3 linked regions of the Homo sapiens genome follow. The protein of the gene in region 1 interacts with the protein of each later gene in a biochemical or structural test. Each region holds a gene or a part of one and is shown in the gene's direction. Other genes may lie near its edges. The genes, in order: GOPC, RPS6KA1 and CRHR1.

Region 1 (3,748 bases):
ATCAGCGAAGGGCACACAATGCAGGCTTTGGGTTGTGATTAACCGTAAGGGTCTGCCCCAAGAACAGATAACAGCAGACTGCACTCAGCTAAATATGCTTCTAGGTAATGCAGGAGTTTCCACCAGCCTACTCTAATCACACAGGTTTCTCTTTCCCTTTCTAGGACTGTCTACCCTTGAACTGGAAGTAGGCAGAATGTAAAGAGAGGAGTTGCTGGATACTTTTAAAGGCACTGAAAAATTCAAGTTAAAGTTATAGTTGAGGGGTAGTAGCCTCACTAGCCTATCTTGAGTAAGGGTCATGTCTCATTCATTTTTGTGTCTTCAATGTCGCAACAGAGCTCTGCATTCAATATATTTGTAAATATATGAATTCACAATTTTGATTTTCTGAAATGTCACGTGTGAGGACACTACCAGTTTTCAAATAAATACACCTTTTAAAGTACAGTTATGTGCCAAATAACAAGGCTTCAGCAATGAATGGATCGCATAAACTATGGTGATCCTATAAGAGTATATGACTGTACCTTTTCTATGTTTAGATATGTTTAAGTACACAAATAGTTACCACTGTGTTATAATCGCCTACCGTATCCAGAATGGCAACATGCTGTACAGGTTTACAGCCTAAGAGCAATAGGCTACATCATATAGCCTGGGTGTGTAGTAGGCTATACTATCTAGGTTTGTGTTTAAATACACTCTAGGATGTTCCCTAAGGGATGATTAACCTAAGGACACATTCCTAAGAACATATCCCCATCTTAAGTGAAGCACTACTGTAGTTGCTTTTGAAATGTGTGACCTATGGTGTATTAAGAGGAATACCGTGTGCCAAGAAGTGACGCTAAGCGTTTTACCTTACAACTGAGTTAAGTAAAATTTGGAAACTTGGTTTCGAGGTTAATACATGAAAGGCGACACAGGTAGTATGTGACAGAGGGTAAGAATTGAATCCAGGTCTACCTGACTCTTAATCACAAGACAAAAAGTCTTCTATTAATTCCGCAAAATCTGGTCAGCCGCTTCAATGCGCAGCTTTAGGCAGTCCACACCTGGAATTTGGGGTCTGGTTTACCAAGAACAGCCAGTGTGTACACCCACTCCATCCTATCCAGGAACTGGAATCGAGAAGGTAAAAACGTGGCTATTGCGCATGCTCACACCGCCCTTCCTTGCTCTCCCCTCCCTGACCCTAGATGCCACCGCAGCAACTTTCTGGGAGGATTTTGGAACGGCTCCCGCCAACTGTTAAGTCAAACCGGCGGAAATCCTTCCTTTCTGCGACGTGGACACCTTTCTCATCCTCGGGCCTTTCCAACCAGGGTGCAGAAACCACGCGCCTCCGTTTCTCAGGGATTCAAGCCGTAGTTTGCCAGTTGTTAATATGGCCGCTGACAGGCCGCTCCCAAGCTGAGGCCTTTCATAGGCCAAGATCGCATCCTGTCCCCGCCTATTTTGTCCCTCGTGGCTGCGTCCGCCCAGCTCTTCGCTACGCATGCGCAGCGGGGGCAGGCTGGGAGGTGGGACTGACTGAGTCTTCCGTGTGTCGCCGCCGTTGCCGCCTCAGCTTCAGCCTCGTTACTCCTGCGGTTCTGTGACTGTGCTGCTGGCGTTAACGGCGCGAGGTGAAGGGAGGTGACGGAGTGTGCCCGCGCGCGCGGGGGTCCCCTCAGTCCCAGCAGTTCCCTTCGTGCGCGGGGGGCGGCGAGGGTCTTCAGCAGTCGGGAGAGGCCCTTGACGGCGCCATGTCGGCGGGCGGTCCATGCCCAGCAGCAGCCGGAGGGGGCCCAGGGGGCGCCTCCTGCTCCGTGGGGGCCCCTGGCGGGGTATCCATGTTCCGGTGGCTGGAGGTGCTGGAGAAGGAGTTCGACAAAGCTTTTGTGGATGTGGATCTGCTCCTGGGAGAGATCGATCCAGACCAAGCGGACATCACTTATGAGGGGCGACAGAAGATGACCAGCCTGAGCTCCTGCTTTGCACAGCTTTGCCACAAAGCCCAGTCTGTGTCTCAAATCAACCACAAGCTGGAGGTGAGCCGTGGGTGCTGGCGGCTATGGCATCCAACCCCAGGCTGCCCGGTGGCGTCAGATGCCATTTAACGCTCCAGTGAAACGACCCTAGAAAACTGCCCACCGGGGCTTCAAATGTGATGGGAGAGTGCATGTCTGAGGAGTGAGGTGAGGGTGGGGGACAAAAAGGGCCCTAGACCGACGTGTGAGTTCCCGGGGTACTGTCGTCCACCTTCCTAGTATCTCTCTGAGGAGGAAACTAATTACATACACCAGCCTCCATTGCACATGTTACATTAACAAACCTAACAAAGATTCTCTGTCATGAAAATACCGTAGGCCACCTTTTGACAACTGAGTTTTGCAGATCTGCTTTCACATTGATAAACCGAATTTGTATATGTTAAGACAGATACAGCACTGATTATTTTCATTTTAATTATTCCAGGTCAGCGCCTATGATTGCATACAGAGACATGCATAAACTATTTAGGGGAATCTGATCAAAGCTCTTAGGAAAATTTCGTGGTGCATAACGATAGTATCACTGTCTCGGTTTACATCCATAGTTGGTTGTTAAATTACAGGCAGATACCTCCAGAGAGCTCCCTGCAATTATTGAAATTACTTCTGACCTTGAGTTTTTATATGCTTGTACATTACTGTGTAATTTTCCAAAGTCTGGATTTATTTTTGAGAGAGTGTAAAGAATCATTTGCTTTAATCTCTGATCCTGGGTGTGGGTGAGGGTGGAGTGGCTGTGGTTCAAAAAAACAAAAATATCATATTGTGCAGAAAATTTAAAAAGGACATTATTAAAATATTTAGAAATCAAGATAGATTAACATTATTGCATAAAGAGTACTTTCTAACTAGGCAATTTAAGAGAATGGGTCTTTCTTTTCAAAAAGTGTAATAGATAAAAATGGGATAATCAGTGATGTGCAAAACTCTGAACATGCTTTCCTAAGAAATCATCATTACTCGTTGTCATTGACAGTGCCCATTATATCTATATCAATATGAATGTCAGTTAAACATCCTCTCCTTGCCTAGTGGTCAGCATTCTTTCTCTCCTATTAGCCATGAAATATGTGGCATAATTAATCTTTGATTAACATAGATTTACATATCCAAGAATTGTGGCTCTTCTCCACTGCGAGAACTGTTAATTTCTTCTATCCTTTTTGAAAAGATTAGAAAGTGCTAATATGAAGGTAATCACTTCTTACTGTAGGTAAATGAAAACATCTCTTGATTTCTTTATTGGTAGTAATTTCCACAAGAAAGCTATTTTTCTCAGATAGTGAAATTGCATTTAATGTTTTCTAGAAATAGTACTTTAACTTTATTTCATCTTATTTTATCTTATTATATTTTTTTCAAAAAAGAGATGGAGTGCTTTGTTGCCCAGTTTGGTCTTGAATTCCTGGCCTCAGGTGATCCTCCTGCCTTGGCCTCCCAAAGTGCTTTGATTACAGACATGAGCTACTGTGCCTGGCCATTAGTTCTCTAGCTTTAAACAACAAAGATCAAGAGTAGCCTTTACCACATGGTATAATTCGAATGTGTCCCCCAAATTTCGTGTATGGGAAACTTAATCCTCAATGTGACAGTATTGAATCTCCAATGTGGGGCCTTTAAGAGGAGACTGGATCATGAGTACTCTGTTCTTATGAATGGATTAATCCACTTATAGATTGATTTGTTATTGGATAAATGGATGAATGAGT
Region 2 (3,748 bases), on another chromosome or scaffold:
GGGCCCCTCTTTCTAAGACAGAGTTGCTTGGGTGGGAAGGAATGATGCCAGTTGGAACCCATTTCTGACATCTCAGAACTGGGGGCAGTGGTCTGGGGCCCTGGGCATCTGTCCTCATGAGCAGTGCTCTCTGAGGAAGAGGGAGGAGTGTGGGTCTTCAACCTCTAAGAGGCCAAAGGACTCCTAAGACAAAGTCCTTCATTCAGTACTCTGCAAGGTCAGCACCATTGTCCCCATTCAGTCATTTATTTAGCACTTAGGTGATAAGTACTATTTCAGACAACAAAGTGCAGATGTCAGCAAGACACACCTGCCCTCGTGATACAGATGAGGAAACTGAGACTTTATTACTATTATTATTTTTTGAGACATAGTCTTGCTCTGTCACCAGGCTGGAGTGCAGTGGCGTGATCTCGGCTCACTGCAACCTCCACCTCCCGGGTTCAAGTGATTCTCCTGCTTCAGCCTCCTGAGTAGCTGGGACTACAGGCCCGTGTCACCATGCCCAGCTAATTTTTGTATTTTTAGTAGAGTCAGGTTTTCACCATGTTGACCAGGATGGTCTCGATCTCTTGACCTCGTGATCCTCGTGATCTGTGAGGCCTCTTGGCCTCAGCCTCCCAAAGTGCTGGGATTACAGACATGAGCCACTGCGCCTGGCCGAAACTGAGACTTCAAAAAGTGATATGAGGCCACGCGTGGTGGCTCATGACTGTAATCCTAGCACTTTGGGAGCCTGAGGCGGGTGGATCACCTGAGGTCAGGAGTTTGAGACCAGCTGGGCCAACATGGCGAAACCCCGCCTCTACTAAAAATACAAAAATTAGCCAGGTGTGGTGGTGCGGCCTATATTCCCAGCTACTTGGGAGGCTGAGGCAGAAGAATTGCTTGAACCCAGCGGGGCAGAGGTTGCAGTGAGCTGAGATTGCGCCGCTGCACTCCAGCCTGGGCAAAAGAGTGAAACTGTCTCAAAAAATAAATAAAAATAAAAATAAAAAGTGATATGACAGACCCAAGGGCAGAATAAGTGGCTGGCAGAGCTAGGATTAGTGGCTGTATCTTTGTGGCTGCACAGCTGTGTTCTTTCAAGGATTGCTATGCAGCAGTCAGGCCAGAGGGGCAGATGACCCCGGACCCAGGACCCAGGCTCTGAGTGGGAAGCCAGCACCCCACAACCCCCCTGACCCCCCTACCAGTCTGTTCTCCAGGGCTGCCTGTTCCCTTACTCTTACAGGTTTGGCGTTCCATAAGAATGACACCCAAGCCAGAGATCCAGGGAGTAGAGGCAGCCAGACTGCCTTAGAGCGGGGGGTCCCTAAGTCATCCAGGCCACTGCTCAAGAAACCCACACCTCTAGGTACACCTACCCCTTCCTCCCCACCCTCAGTAGGCTTGCAGCCACGTGACTTTGGGTTATGGTCACATGTCTGCCACCTGCCTGCTGAGGGACCTCGGTGAGTCCCTTAACTCTCCTGAGCCTCATCTGAAAAATAGGAGTAATAGAACCTGCTCTGGCCTCCTTGCTGTCTTTGCTGGGTTGAACTTTCACTGGATAAACCACATGCTGGACTCTGGCTGGGTGCCAAGATGTTGATGATGGACAAGCCATGGCCCCTTCCCGAGTTAACCTGCAGCATGCTTAGGTTATGGGGGTAGAGAGGAGGGAGGAAAGAACATGAGGCTGTGTGGACAGGGGTGACATTTGAATTCAGTCCTGATAAAAGATCAGGAGTTTGCCAAAGTGACAAGGCAGGAAAGGCTTTCTTGGTAGAGGGAGCCACCATACAAATGCTGGGGATATAAAATAGACTGTTTTCAGGGTCTGTGGTTGTTCAGTTTAGCTCAAAAATAGGGCCCAATGATAAGAATGGCTATTGTTTGTAGGCCAGTTACATGTCAGGTGTATATATTTATAGGCATTATTTCATTTGCTTCTTGCCGCCACCATTGAGGTATGTTACTTTGATCCGCATTTCACAGATGAGGAAACTGAAGCCCCAGTAAATGAACTAACCTTCTAGGGGTCACGCAGGTGGTAGAAGCCAGAATTTGAACCCACAAGGTCAGGTTGCAAAACCTACATTCCTAGTTATTGTGCTGGGCAGTTGAAGATGATGGCCTTGATTTCTATGCTAAGGAGCTGGGACTTGATTCTACAGGCAGTGGAAGCCACAGAGGGGTTTGGGGCCTGGTACATAGAAGGTTCTCAGCAAATGTTGACTGAGTGAGTTGAGTGCAGCAGTTGCACTTGATTTTAGGAATGATGAGGGTTTGGAGTGGGGAAGGCTGTGGGGCAGGGAGCTGGTGGGTAGGCTGTTCTGATCATCTGCAGGAATTATGTCAAGAGTCTAGAATGCTGGGTGAAGTGGAGCTCAGTCTACAAAAGCATCCCTACCACAGCCCAGCCCCTGGGCCCTGACCAACCCATCCCTTCTCCCCAGGCTGCTGAGAGATGACAGTGTGTGTATGGATGTGTGCATGGAGGGGCCTGTAGAACATTTGGCCCCTGGGGAGAGATTAGGGGCATTAAAGGGGCTCAGGGGGCAGGATGTCCTGGGAGTGGCAATGGGGAGCTGTTCCAGGGGCAGGGAGATTATGTAATGGGTAGAGCACAGCTGTGCCTACCCAGCTGTAGCCAAGCAGGGCTACAGCTGCCCCATGGACCCAGCTCCTGGCTCCAAAGTCCAGATCCAGACCTGTTCTAGAGCAGGCCTTCCTAGCTGTTGGGAACCTCCTGTCTGCCTCACCACACTCTCCCTGTTCTAGGAGGGGTGGGGCAATTTCTTTCAGCTTCCAAACGCCCAGATAGGGTAGGTTACTTGCCTCACATCACACAGGAAACAGATGGGCTGGGTTTGACACACCCCAGCATATTTAATAACCACCTGAGAGTGAAGTCTGGGGGCTGGAAAAGGCAAGACTGACCAGAGGGGGGCTCTGGGCTCTGGGCTGTTTCTCAGCTGACCTGTTTGGAGCACCTCCTGGATTTGGGACCAGATTTTGAATCCCCACTCACCAGTTGTGTGACCATAGGCATCATCACTAGGTCCCCTCAGAGCCTCAGTTTCCTTCTCTGCCACATGGGGCCAGGGCCTACCTCCCAGGGCTGTCATGAGGATTAAATGGTGCCACAGGGGCCAGGCGCAGTGGCTCACACCTGTAATCCCAGCACTTTGGGAGGCCGAGGCGGGCGGATCACCTGAGGTCAGGAGTTTGAGACCAGCCTGGCCAACGTGGTGAAACCCCGTGTCTACTAAAAAAAATACAAAAATTAGCCGGGCATGGTGGCGTACGCCTGTAATCCCAGCTACTTGGGAGGCTGAGGCAGGAGAATCGCTTGAACCTGGGAGGCGGAGGTTGCAGTGAGCTGCGATTGCACTACTGCACTCCAGCCTCAGCAACAGAGCAAAACTCTGTCTAAAAAAAAAAAAAAAAAAAAAAAAAGTGGTGCCACAGGTGCGAGGCACTGAGCCCAGTGCCTGCCATGTGGCAGAGGCTTGGAAGAGAGCAGCTGTTAGCCCCAAGCCCTCGTCTCTGCCCTCGTGGGACTCCCCATTTATTAGGAAGGGCAGGCCTGTGTGTAAATAGTCCCTGCAGTGGGACAAGTGCTACAATGAAGGCTGAAGTGGAGGCAGCAGTCATTCTGCCTGGCAAGGTCAGGGGAGGGGTCCCAGAGTGGGGCAGGGCAAGGATAGCCACCATCTCTGGGTTGCATGCTTTCCCAGACTTTGTCTCCTTCCACCCTTGC
Region 3 (3,748 bases), on another chromosome or scaffold:
TCAGAGGGAGGCACTAAAAGGCAGAGAAAGAAGGGGCAGCCTCAGGGGGGTGCCAGGACTGTGCCAGCCCCCACCCTTTGGAGGCCATATCCACCCTCCCCTCCTGAAGTGTCACTGGGCCTCAACTCTGCCCCAACATCCTCTCTCTCTCGCGTGCTCTCTCTCTCTCCTCCAAAAAGCAAATATTTGGAAGGGGACTTTGACATCTTCTTTCTAGTTCAGATGTTTATATCTCTTTGAGTCACAGACCCCTTTGAGAATCTAATGAAAGCCGTGGGCCCATTTCCCCATTAAAATGCATGTATACACCAATATTTTCATTACATTCAGGGTCTCTGTGAACTGTTGAAGTTTCCAGTGGGCTGAGATTAAGAATTTCTGATCTGGTTCAACCACTTGATTTTATTATAGATGAAGACAAGACACTAAGGCCCAGAGAGGGCAAGTGACTTGCCTATGATCTCACAGCAAATTAGTGGCACAGCCCATTCTGAAGCAGTGGGCCCAGACTCCCAGTTCAGTGTGTCCTTTCCACTCCCCCAGATGGTGTCTCCCTCCCTTTCCTCTCCATAGCTCACTTCTCCATCAGTCCTGTCCTAGGGCCCTGCACAGAACAAAGTACACGTGACGTATGGTCAGTAAGTGTGGTTAACAGGCCAGCCGGAAGAAGGAACAGGCCAGCCGGAAGGAGGGCCAACTTCATTTAGCTGATTCTTCCCTGCAGGGCCAGGGTAGATGTGGTTTGATTGCAGAGACGTGAGGGGCTAGGTCAATGATTGGATGGGTCTGTTCCAGGGTGTTCCTGTGATGTCTCAGAGCTCCAGGCTGTCACCATGCGAGGGACCAAGAGAAGTGTCCTTAGGCTACAGAGCAGGGGACCAGAAGCATGCCCAGGCTTCCTCTAAATGCCAGGACCTTAGCTTTTAACACCACCTCCAGCCATCTCTCTTCCTCCTCTGCTCTGGAACCCATGCTGGCTCCCTAGTACCATAGCATCAGATTCAGATTTCTTCCCCTTGTGTCTTCTTTGCATAGGATGAGCTCATTTCTGCACTGGTCATTGTTGTCATCCTGTCCCTAGCTGGTGTGAGTGGGAACGAGTGGGGAGGTGGGCAGAACTCTGGAATGTCCTCTGCCTGCCTGGGGCCTTGGCCGGATATCTTGCTGTGCCTTACCAGCCGTCTCTGCCCCCAGGACTGCAGTGCAACGCATCCGTGGACCTCATTGGCACCTGCTGGCCCCGCAGCCCTGCGGGGCAGCTAGTGGTTCGGCCCTGCCCTGCCTTTTTCTATGGTGTCCGCTACAATACCACAAGTAAGGAAGAAGTGGAGGGTGGACCATCTGCTGGGAGGTGGGACAGGATGGGGAGAGCTTGGAGGTGGGGGAAGGAAGAATGACGATGACAATAACAGTAATACCTCTTGTGGGGATCGCCCCTGTTTTCCAAAGGTCAGCGCTGTATTCTCCTGGGTGCCCTGTGCTCATTACTCGTGATTCTCACAATACCCTTGCAAGACACTATCACGCCTCCTATAACTAAGGCCCCTGGGGCTCAGGGAGGTTAGGGAACTTGCCCCATTGGCAGCTGGTAAGGGGTGAAGCTGGAATTTGCATCCACGTCTGTCTGGCACTTTCTTCTGCCATTAAACTTCAGGTTAGTCTGTTTGAGCCTACTGTAATACCATGAAGCAGGGCAGGAATCATCAGAGCCCCAGCTGTGTGGATAAGAACCTTGAGTCGAGAGGTTCTGAGGCCTACCCCGGGCCCTCCAGCCAGGAGGCAGGGGACCCAGAGTTTCAGATGCACAGGCACAGGCTCAACTTGCATCCTGGATTTGTAGGTGGAGTGGGGCAGGACGGGGTTGACCCAGGGTCCGTCGGATACTTGATCCTCATGTAAACACCTGGCTCCCCGGAGGCCCGAAACCCCCAGAGCCGGGCTTTGCAGCTCCCTGCTATTCCGCCTGCCACTCTCAGAATTAATTTGCTCTCCCCTGTCAATGAGTCAGGTCCCTGCTTATCAAGAGAGCAACAGCTGTGGGCCAGGAGCCCTAACCTACCTGAGGGGAGGCTGGGGGCCTGATCCCTGCAATTGGGGCCTCCTGTGTGCACCCTTGGGTCCTTGTGGTCTTGAACTCAGAGTCCCAAGAGGGCACAGGGGTGAGCCCAGACACCATGTAGTTTACTCCAAGACTCACTGTGTGACCTCCCAGCACATTGTTGCCCCTCATCTGGCCCTCAGCCCCTCATCTGAGGATGGAGAGGGCTGGATGGCTTGGCTTCTAAGATGTCTTCCAGCTCAAAACTCCCAGATTCCTTCTCCTGCCCCTCTTTCCTCTACCAGATGGATTTGGGGTGTTAAGGTTGGGGGCTACAGCAGAGGAGTAGGAAGACCCAGCCAGAAAGTGACTCCCCAGGGAGTGACTTGGGAGGCCAGGGCAGGGCAGGAGGCTGGGGCAGCCAGATCTAGCAGCCTCGTGTGTCTGTACCATGTCCTGGCCATGGGAGGGACTCGGGAGAGGGAGAAGACACACTGGGAGGGGCTTGGGGGCCAAGGGGAGGAAGTGCAGAAAGGAAGAAGGGCCTCTTGGCCAGGTCAGTCCAAGGGGTGCACAGTTGGCCAGCCCCCAATATAGTCAGGCCCATTTTGTAATAAGGAAATTGAGGCACAGAGAGGCTAATAACCTATCGGAGGTCGCAGAGCCTGGAGGCAGGGTCACAGCCCAGGGACGATAACTCTCACGATGCTGGGGGCTGAGTCCTTCTGGAGCCCCTAGGAAGGAGGCAGCATCTGCACATCAGAGGAGCTTCCAGGAGGAGGCACCAGTTCCTGTCATGTCCACTTCCAGAGTGATCCTCGTGTCTGGGCCTACCTGCCCCCACTCCCCAGCGCCACCGCCCAGCCTCAGGTTTCAGATCTGAGTTGGTCACTCCTTCACTTGGAACCCACTCTTGTGTGGCCTCCGTGTTCAGGCTGCTGGGTGGGGCCGGCCAGGCTGTCTGTGGTCATGGCCCTGTCACCTTTTGCAGCCAGCCCTGGCCACCCCCCATGAGTTCCCTCTGCTCCCGTTGCAAAGGGTTACTTGACATGCTCCAGATAAACATTTTCAGCCCTCAGTGCCTGGGCACACACTTCACTTGCTGGCCCTGCCTGAAGTGGCAGTCAGGAGTCCTAAGTTCTCATTCCAGCTGCATCTGCAGCTGGTTAAGTAGCCCTTGGCACAGACCTTCTGTGGGCCTCAGTTTCTACACCTGCAGAATGGGTGGGAGGATTGAGTGTGGTGCTCTCTAGGCTCCCCCGCACTTCCCTCTGTGATCCCAGGAAAGGAGCTGGGGTGATGGCCTCTCGACATGGGGTCAGTCTGTGAGGGCAGGGCTGGAAGACCCCTTTCCAGGTGCCTCCAGCGCCAGATGAGGTGGAGCACGCCCGTGCAGTCAGTCACAAGTGGGTACCCAGAGCTGCACCTCATCATTAAGCACTAATTAATCCATTTACTGATGAGTTGCTGCCAGGACTTCTAGGCCTTCTCCCTAATGCCCTCCCTCCTGCTGCATCTGATCTTCAAAGGGATGGGAAGCATTTCCAAAAATATCTATTTTCCCGTGATTCTTTGGGAGGACTGCTCAGCTCAGCAATTAAAGACAAGGAGGTCGCATCCTCCCTGGCAACGGCTCCCTGCTTGTTGGGCCTGCTTTCTTTCGGATCACCTCCTTTCTCCCCATCAAAGCCTGCTCCCTCTGGGTGACCC

Evidence for each region.
Region 2: the proteins of GOPC (region 1) and RPS6KA1 interact in a test that uses a peptide from one of them, tested with the Homo sapiens proteins (2 studies listed by BioGRID and IntAct, with this or other methods).
Region 3: the proteins of GOPC (region 1) and CRHR1 form a complex in vitro, tested with the Homo sapiens proteins (2 studies listed by BioGRID and IntAct, with this or other methods).

Annotation. Positions count from the first base shown.
Region 1 is NC_000006.12:117,600,292-117,604,039, reverse strand, and holds the start of GOPC (Golgi-associated PDZ and coiled-coil motif-containing protein), read left to right. Parts: upstream 1-1,528; 5' UTR 1,529-1,751; coding exon 1,752-2,036; intron 2,037-3,748.
Region 2 is NC_000001.11:26,532,734-26,536,481, forward strand, and holds part of RPS6KA1 (ribosomal protein S6 kinase alpha-1), read left to right. Parts: intron 1-3,748. UniProt on the Homo sapiens protein: Serine/threonine-protein kinase that acts downstream of ERK (MAPK1/ERK2 and MAPK3/ERK1) signaling and mediates mitogenic and stress-induced activation of the transcription factors CREB1, ETV1/ER81 and NR4A1/NUR77, regulates translation through RPS6 and EIF4B phosphorylation, and mediates cellular proliferation, survival, and differentiation by modulating mTOR signaling and repressing pro-apoptotic function of BAD and DAPK1.
Region 3 is NC_000017.11:45,815,269-45,819,016, forward strand, and holds part of CRHR1 (corticotropin-releasing factor receptor 1 isoform 2 precursor), read left to right. Parts: intron 1-1,194; coding exon 1,195-1,314; intron 1,315-3,748. Other genes in the region: LINC02210-CRHR1 (CRHR1-IT1-CRHR1 protein), read left to right, coding at 1,291-1,314.